2 separate regions of the Homo sapiens genome follow, and region 1 is linked to region 2. The links come from fine-mapping of genetic effects on gene expression. A gene starts in region 2. The other region holds a variant in brackets. All regions are shown on one strand. Distances are from middle to middle. Region 1 overlaps CDH13 (cadherin 13). Region 2 holds the start of CEDORA (CDH13 antisense oligodendrocyte and neuron associated lncRNA).

Region 1 (4,360 bases), 30 kb before region 2:
GGAAATTTGCTAATTTCAAGGAATTAAAGAAAGGCCAGTGAGTCTGTAACTTCGGAAGGCTGAGGAAAGAGATAGAAAATGCAGGTAGAAAGTCAGGCAGGTCCAGATGGATCCTCTAGGGCCCTAGAGACCATGGCAGTCCTTTCTGTTTACTGAGACTGCTTTCTTTGGCTCTGGTTTCCTGGGACAGGAAGAGAACAGTACCCTGGACTGTGATGGGCTGTGACTGTCTAACTAATCTAGGATTCTGGAATTCACTAGCCATTCAATTTTATCCATACATTTTGTCAGAAGATTTGAAATATGCCCTTTACTTTACACTCAGGGCCATAGCTACATGAGCTATTTTAAGATAGTGTATTTCCTTCAATTGGGAGTTCTGTCTCTTTCTGGTTCTGCTTTTAATAATAAATACGGGGTCCAGTGGACTGAAATTAAATAGGGTGTGAAGAATTCCCCTACTGTTTCCCTTCTTTCCTACAGTTTTACAGGGTTGTTTGTATCCTTCAGCAGGAATATAAAAATACCCTGTATCTCCTCTCCTTTCGTAGTTTTTATTTTCTACGTTTCTCATAGTCTTTCCTATCCTACTATATATATGTGTGTGTGTATATATATATATGTGTGTGTGTGTGTATATATATGTGTGTATATATATGCCATATATAGAGATAGATCCATCTTCCATCTATTACTATATCTATAATCTCCCTATATATAAATTTGATACGTATATAATCTGTGCCATGTCTAGTGCTCTGCTATATTGCATTGATCCATTTGGCTATTGTGCACTAATTGCCCAATATTACTTTATGACATTTTTAAGTCTAAACTGAAAGGAAAGCTATGCTCAGTCATGTAATGTTGGCAACCATGCTGCGCAAACATGGGTCCCCTACATCAGGGGTCCCCAACCCCTGGGCCACGGACGGCCCCAACCCCTGGGCCACAACATCAGATTGTTATTGGAGCACAAATCCTATTGTGAACTGCACACACAAGGGATCTAGGCGGCACACTCCTTATGAGAATCTAATGCCTGAACTGAGGAGGAACAGTTTCATCTCCAAGCCATCCCCCACCTGTTCATGGAAAAATTGTCTTCCACGAAACCAGTCCATGGTGCCAAAGAGGTTGGGGACTGCTGCCCTACCTCACAGAAAGCGAGTGACCCCAAGAAGCCTGCAGAAGGGACTTGTCAAACCTTTGATCTCTTTCACCTTCCCACCAATACTTGAGCCCCTGAGGGCAGAGGCTGGCAGCCCTTGGCTCTGGAAGTCCTTCCAGGTCAACAGCTGGCCCTGGCCACTTGCCTGGAAGCTTTCTTCCCTGCTCTGAGGGGGCCCTGCTGAGAGTGAGCCCGCCTTCCAGGGTGGCGCAGGCCCCAGTAACCCCCACTGCGCTGCCTGCGACTCGAATTCTGTTAATCAGTTTGCCTTGCGTCTCCCAACACCGACACCCAGAAGAGGCCGAGGCTTGGCAAGCACTCAGAGCAGCTTCTGTGAAGCTACATTACAGGCTGAAATGAGCTCAGCTTTTAATTTGATTTTTTTTTTCCTGTAACAAGCAAAGTTCACATTACAGATAAATTGCCCGGAAATTCCAATTTAATAAGGCGTATGCATTTTTCAGGCCTAGAAGCATTGAAAACATCTTGCACGCTAGTATTTTTACACTGAAAGGTTTATTAAAAAGACAGCTTTGAAAATGTCAGAAATTTACATAGCGCGCCTGGCCGATTGGTCAAAAAGCCTGATTGGACAAAAGCGCACGGAAGCCAGGAAGCGGGAGAGCAGGCTGTTCCGTGGTCTTGAGCTGTTCTCCCTCCACATCGGGAACGATGGCTCCACCGTTCATTGTCTCCACCCAGCTCTTAGTTCATGTTACATGGGTGCTCAGCAAATGAGTGTCCGTCTGTCCTCCTCTGTCTGCAGGTGTGTTTCTGAGTAGGAGCAGCAAGCTGTCCTTCCAGGGCATCTGTGGGGCAGGCATACCTCCTTGAGGTCTCCCATGGGAGGAGGCACCAAACAAAATAAGCAAACTGGCCAGGTGCGGTGGCTCATGCCTGTAATCCCAGCACTTTGGGAGGCCAAAGCAGGTGGATCGCTTGAGGTCAGGAGTTCGAGACCAGCCTGGCCAACTTGGTGAAACCCCGCTCTACTAAAAATAGAAAATTTAGCCAGGCATGGTGGCAGGTGCCTATAATTCCAGATATTTGGGAGGCTGAGGCAGGAGAATTATTTGAACCCAGGAGGCAGAGGTTGCAGTGGGCTGAGATCGC[T/C]GCCACTGCACTCCAGCCTGGGCGACAGAGCAAGACTCCGTCTCAAAAAATAAAATAAAATAAGCAAACAGAGGGGAGCAGAAAGAGTCCTGTGAAAACTCAGTTAAATAGCACAGCTCTGGATACTTGATTATTTTTTTAAGGAGGAAAAAGAGTGAGACATTGTCCTGTAAAATCACCCAAACCCTGGCTTTCCCTGGAAATGTGGCGCAGGCAGGCCTAACCGTGCTGAGTATTGTTTCTGAGGACTGCCTCCGAGTTCATGTCTCTAAGCATTTTATTGAATACAACTGCTTCTTTGACAAGAAACAAGCAAACATGCTAATTGTACAACAAAATTATGGCATCATGGGACAAAAAAGGAATGACAGAGGGAGCATCAAAGAGCATTGCTTGTACGCCAAACATGAAAGCCAAATTTATTTAATTCAGTTTTTATTTATCTTCTAAACTGAGTTGAGTAATCAGGCAATAGAATGCGGTTCATTTAAAACTTTCATTATTTCAAATATGTTGAACCACTACCAATCACTCCTGGATCAACAGGAAACTTGCTACCTGATGAGTTGCCTTTTTTCTTTTTTCTTTTTTTTTTTTTTTTTTTCTTTGCTTTTTCCATCCCCATGATTGTTCCAACAGAAGGAGAAAAGATGTAATAAACCTTTACCGGGCACCGTCTGCGTCCAGGCACTCTACTCGGCCCTGGGGGTGCAGAGCACACCACCCCAGCCTTAGGCATGAAAAACACTGTGTACCGAGAAGCCCAGCCCCTGGAATCCAGCATGCTGGTGCTACATTCCAGCTCTGTCTCTTATTAACTGGGCCGCTTTTGACAAGTTGCTAAGCCTCTCTGATTCTTGGTTACCTCAACCTTAAAACAAGGATGATACCCACTTCATCAGGTTGTCATGAGTCACAAAAATAAATGTAGTGATGCTCTTAAAGGGTTTAGCACCAAGCTGGGCCCAAGGAAGCATTCTGTGTGTCTATTGACCAACTTTTACCTATCCTGACACCAAGGAGCTTAGAGTTTAGTGGAGATGGCAGAGCCGTCAGGGCCCGTGTTAGGCTCCCAAAGGCATTTTTACCAGTGCATGTGCCTCGCACAGACCTAGTGAGGTGATTAATTCTACTGGGAAAGTCACACTGGATGAACGAGAGGAGACGTATGAGTGGGGTCTTGAAACAGTAAAAATTTGCCAGGTGGAAGCATAAATGACTCTTTAAATGAAAGCCTGGTGTTTTTAAAGCAGTTCATTCTCATGAGTAATTCATCGCTTCTGTTTTCACAAAATAGTGAAAGGATCATTGCAGCAGCAAGGGCATGTGGAAGCCCTGCGTTCGCCTCATCCGTTCTCCCCATCTGTCCCCTGTCACAGTTGCAGCATCAAAACATTGTTCCCCTAGGCTCTGCTGAGTCGGATGTTTCTGAAACATTCCAGGGGACCGTGTGAGTCACATCAGGGAGGACACACAGGGCCATGACCCCAGTGAGCCATTAACACACCCATAGCCTGACTCTGCAACGGCTCCCCCGAGGGCGCCCCGCACAAGACCAAGCCCTTTGTGTCAGCTTCAGTTTGCCCTCACAGCTACCCCAGAACACCACTGGGACTGTCCCCGAGTCACAGAGGAGGAAGTAGAAACACAGAGAAGTAGCTTGCCAGGCTCACTGTTAGAACCCAGGTCCTTTCCTCTCCAGAGTCCATGACTCTAACACTCATGTGATGCTGGCAATGTGAACGGCTGGGGGGAAGCAGCAGAGGGTGACAGCAGGCCTTGGCACCAGAGATCCAGCCTGCGAATCCCAACCATGCCCCATATTAGCCAATGATCTTGGCAAAGTTCACATATCTCTAGGCCTCTCAGTTCCTCATCTGTAAAAGGGGAGGAATAATATTATCAACCTCCCAGGGCTGGTGTGAGGGCTGAAGGCATAGATGCTGGAAGCTCCTGGAGCGGTGTCCAGCCGGCGCAATGTAAGGCTCGATGCTGCTGCAGCTGTGTTACTATTAATATTAAAGGGAGGCTGCACCCCGAGGCTGTTTTAGGAAAGAACAGGCCAGACGCCTTCCA
Region 2 (4,396 bases):
TCATCCTGTGACTTAGAATGCCTTAACCACCTGGGAAGGCAGCCCAGTAGATCTCTGCCTCATTTTACCCAGCACCTATTCAAGATGGAGTTGCTCTGATTTCAATGCCTCTGACACACTAATGTTAGAGCACCTTGGACATTTTCCTTAATCTGAGTGTCTAGTTTTCTTTTCTAGAAAATGAGAAAAAACTAGAATGTAGACCCCCATGTGCTCAAAGCAACAGCCTGCCTGGTTTGCTTGGACTTTTCCTAGACTGTATGATAACAGGTGCTCGATTCCTCTACGTAAATCTTCACCTTTTATTAATCATATTACCCTGCTTCTCTTAGAAAACGCACAGTTCTGCCCTCCCTACACCAAGATCACAAAAGGCTAAGTGTAAGTCATGAGCCAACCAGACCAAGAGTAACCCAGGCAGGCCAGGTGGCCAACTTGGCCATCTCATAGGCAGTTATCACTGCTCAACTTGAAGAAATACAAGGTTAATTATTGGAGTTTGAAATCCAGCAGTGGAATCCATGTGGTCCTATCGTGGTCATATAATGTGCTGAGGCTCTTACAAGTTGTCAGTGCTGAGTGGGAACGACAAAGCCAGAAACAAGGGCAAGCAGAGGTTGAATGCCAGGAAGACCGTGGCAGGGTGCCAAGTCCATGAAGCAAAAGCACCGCCATGGTCTAAAAGGCATAGTCCTCTAGAGCAACAGAGCCAGTAACTCAGATCCAAAGGAAAGAAAATGATAACCCTTTCCCCCTCAAGACTTGCCATTGTATGGCAGCAGGAGGGCTGCTTGCAAAATAAATAACCCACCAACATTTGTAGGTTGGAGATCTCTCAGTCAAGAGTGACAGGCTGTCACTGAAAATGGGTCGGAAGGAAAACTGTCATTCCTACTAAGCAATTTTAAATAGGCTTTGTTTCCAGATATCTGTGCCTACAAGTCCTCATTTCCTCATTTGGAAATGGGATTTGATATGGTTGTATTAGGAGGTAAAATTAAAAATATCTCCTTACATCCCATTCACACTGCTGCATGATGGAATTGCCAACCTTGTAACCAAAACACATGTCTTTCTAATAAGAAGTCAATGACACAAGAGAAAAGAGATTCCTGCAGCTAAGGTTTGCTCCTGGTATTTTCCCCATGATATCACCCAACACAATGTACACTCTGTGGGTGGAGAAGGATGGGGGGTGACTTTTTAGCTTGTATACTTATTTGAGAACCTTAAATGAGATGCCTATTAAACTATCCATGTATACAAATAGACTCAATATTAAGAAAAGAAGTAGTATAAGACTGAAAGACATGCTTAAGAGAAAGGAGGGAGCCATACTTCAGGAATGGAGAAATGAAGAAAAATCTATACTGGCTAAAGTCAGGTTAGCTAGGAGGGAACATATGAGGAAGGCCCAAGTCTTATGCTGCTAGAAGCCAGGGCAGAGGCAGTAGGCTGGAAAGGACCAGTGGTCATCTTGGAAATATGTGCTCCACTTGAAGCCATTTGGATAAAAAATAAGAATTCTTAGAACACTGGACATCCCAGAAACACGATAAATTAGCAGACCAAATGCCAGTCTGCAACTGCTGGTTAAAAAGAAAAATCCAATTACTTATAACACTGAATATAGGTCAGCAGAAACTCCCGGCATCAAAGAAACTCTGACCATAAAGACTTAGTGTATATTTTTACAAAACACTTCACAGGGCCTTGTGGATCAATCATGGATTCAATTTTGTTCTACAAATTAAAATCAAGCCATGTTTAAAGCAATCTCATTAAGTCGCTTGCCAACGGGTGCACACAGTACCACACTCCTGGTGTGACATGACCATTCTTATCATTCATTTTTGGAACCCTCCTTTCATGGATACACCACCCCTCACCTCACTTCCCTGCTTCTGCCTTACCTGTGCTTTCCCTGTGGCTTACCTGGATTATCACAACCAGATCCCCTGCAGTTTTCAGCCTTGCCAACATCTGAACATGTCAAAGAAAAATGGGCAGGACAGAGTTTGAAAGGCAAAGCCTTTATTCAAGGCTACAATAAGGGAGAGAGATTGAACTAACTCTGCTGAAACAAACAATGGGACGATTTTTAAGAGCTGGGATGAGCTAATGGAAAAGTACTGGAAGATGTTTGTGGGGAGGTTGGTCCATGTGATTAGGCATCTGTGTTTGCTAATGGGTGTTTACTGGAGTTAGGCTCCAACCCTTCCACAGAGACTGAGAGACAGAGACACTATTCCTTTCCATGATTACATTTCAAAGAGATGTCAGGTCCTTGAGAAAAGTGGTCCTGGGTTGCAAAACTAGCAACAGGTTGGAAGATTTACATCTCACAGGGACAGAGAAAGAATTTACAATTGCAAGTTTCTAAAGTAAATGCTTCAAGAAAAGAGAAGTCAAGGCCTATATTAGTCCATTCTCATACTACTGTATAGCTACTACTCGATACTGGGTAATTTATAAAGGAAAGAGGTTTAATTGGCTCATAGTTCCACATGGCTGGGGAGGCCTCAGGAAACTTACAATCATGGTGGAAGGCAAATGGGAAGCAAGGACCTTCTTCACATGGTGTCAGGAGAGAGAAGTGCTAGCAGGTTAAATGCCAGACACTTATAAAACCATCCGATCTCATGAGAACTCACTCACTATCAAGAGAACAGCATGGGGGAAACCACCCCCATGATCCAATCATCTCCCTCCCTCAATATGTGGGGATTACAATTGGAGATGAGATTTGGGTGGAGACACAAAGCCAAACCATATCAGGGCTCTAGAGTCTGAAAGAAGCCCATCTAAAGTGTAGTCCAGCACAGGGGAAGGTTATGGCCCTCTTGGTCAAGCCTATCTATCCTTAGGAGGTAAGGAAGTTCTTCTAGCCTTGCCTCAAACCCAGGGTGAGCATTAGTATATGGTGATTCTCCTGGTGGCTGAGCCACAGGCTCCAACACTGTTCCCCAGTCATGAGGCTCTAAACCACTACCCCACAGAGGCCCATTTCTATAATAAGGTCCTGCTCCCAAGCTTCCTCCTTTCTCTCCATCCTTATCCCTCCCCCTTCCCTGCCTGGCATGGTCTTGTAGCTGGAAGACGAGGCCTCAGCTCTGGGGTCTCATTTCTGCTTCACAAACCTCCATCAGCACAGACTGTCCCCATGTGGAGCCCAGCCCCCTGCTGTTATCTCTGAAAAAGATCTACTCAACTCTATAATCATTTTCGGCTACTGAGCTATTCGTCCTACAGAAATAGTAAATGCTATTTTACTGTGCATGGCCGGTGATACCAGCAAGCCTAGGACATTGGTCCCAGCGCCTATCCTGCCTATTGTCCTACTACAGGGACAACTATGACTATGCTAGCTGGAAATGATGATTCCTTGGGTACCCAGCCTGACTATGACACAGGCTGTCATAGTCATTTCCAGCAAGCAAAATAGGAACAGGAAGCTAAGAATCTCAAATACATTTAGAATGACCTAGTCAAATGCCATTTCTTTTTTTTTTTCTTTGAGACAGAGTCTTGCTCTGCTGCCCAGGCTGGAGTGCAGTGGTGCAGTCTCAGCTCACTGCAACCTCTGCCTCTTGGGTTCAAGCGATTCTCCTGCCTCAGCCTCCAGAGTAGCTGGGATTACAGGCACGTGCCATCATGCCCAGCTAATTTTTTGTATTTTTAGTAGAGACAGGGTTTCGCCATGTTGGCCAGGCCAGTGTCAAACTCCTGACCTCAAGTGATCTGCCCACTTCAGCCTCCCAGAGTGCTAGGATTATAGACCTGAGCCACCACACCCGGCCTACCATTTATTTGTGAAAAAAAAATAAAAAATTCCACTTACATGGGTTCCCCAGAGTCGTCAGATTCATAGAGACAAGGAGTGGAATGGTGGCTGCCAGGGGCCAGGGGAAGGGGAATGGGGACTTGGTGTTTAATGGGTCAGAGTTTCAGTTTTGCATGGTGAGAAAGTTCTGGAGATGAATGGTGGTGATGTTCCCACAACAATTTGAATGTACTTAACACCACTGAACTGTACACTTCAAAGTGGTTAAAAATTGTCAATTTTATGTTATGTATATTTCACCACAATGAAAAGAACAGCTCATAAGAAGGAAGCTGTAAATAGTAATAATAATAACCTGGAATTATGGTTTAGGGATTATAGCTTGCTTTCATGGTTAAAATGAGAGCCTGTAAGACTCAAGCTATGTAATAAAAATTCTGGTGGAGAAAGTATAGGTTAATGCTTGCTCTAGAGAAGGAGGCCTGACACTCACGGTGTCCATTTGAGCCTGTCCTAAATCTCTCTGGACCTCAGCCTCACCATACCTACAATGAATTGGCCTCAGATCTTCTGCTCTGATCTTGCACCAAGCCTGGGCTTGCAATCTGCGTG

What was found. PIP is the estimated chance that this variant, and not a neighbour inherited with it, causes the effect. A credible set is the group of variants that fine-mapping cannot tell apart.
Region 1: its variant is the best candidate, but not a certain one, in a credible set for the expression of CEDORA in caudate (GTEx, PIP 0.88).

What each region holds. Positions count from the first base shown.
Region 1 is chr16:83,740,880-83,745,239 of GRCh38, forward strand. All of the region lies in intron 10 of CDH13 (cadherin 13), which reads left to right. All of the region lies in intron 1 of CEDORA (CDH13 antisense oligodendrocyte and neuron associated lncRNA), which reads right to left. Among named protein-coding and RNA genes, the nearest start is that of CEDORA, 30 kb to the right of the region's middle. The variant T/C (reference allele first, on the strand shown) is at 2,285.
Region 2 is chr16:83,770,874-83,775,269 of GRCh38, forward strand. It overlaps CEDORA (CDH13 antisense oligodendrocyte and neuron associated lncRNA), which reads right to left and starts at 2,076. Exons shown (of 4, transcript NR_188499.1): 1 at 1,936-2,076. All of the region lies in intron 11 of CDH13 (cadherin 13), which reads left to right.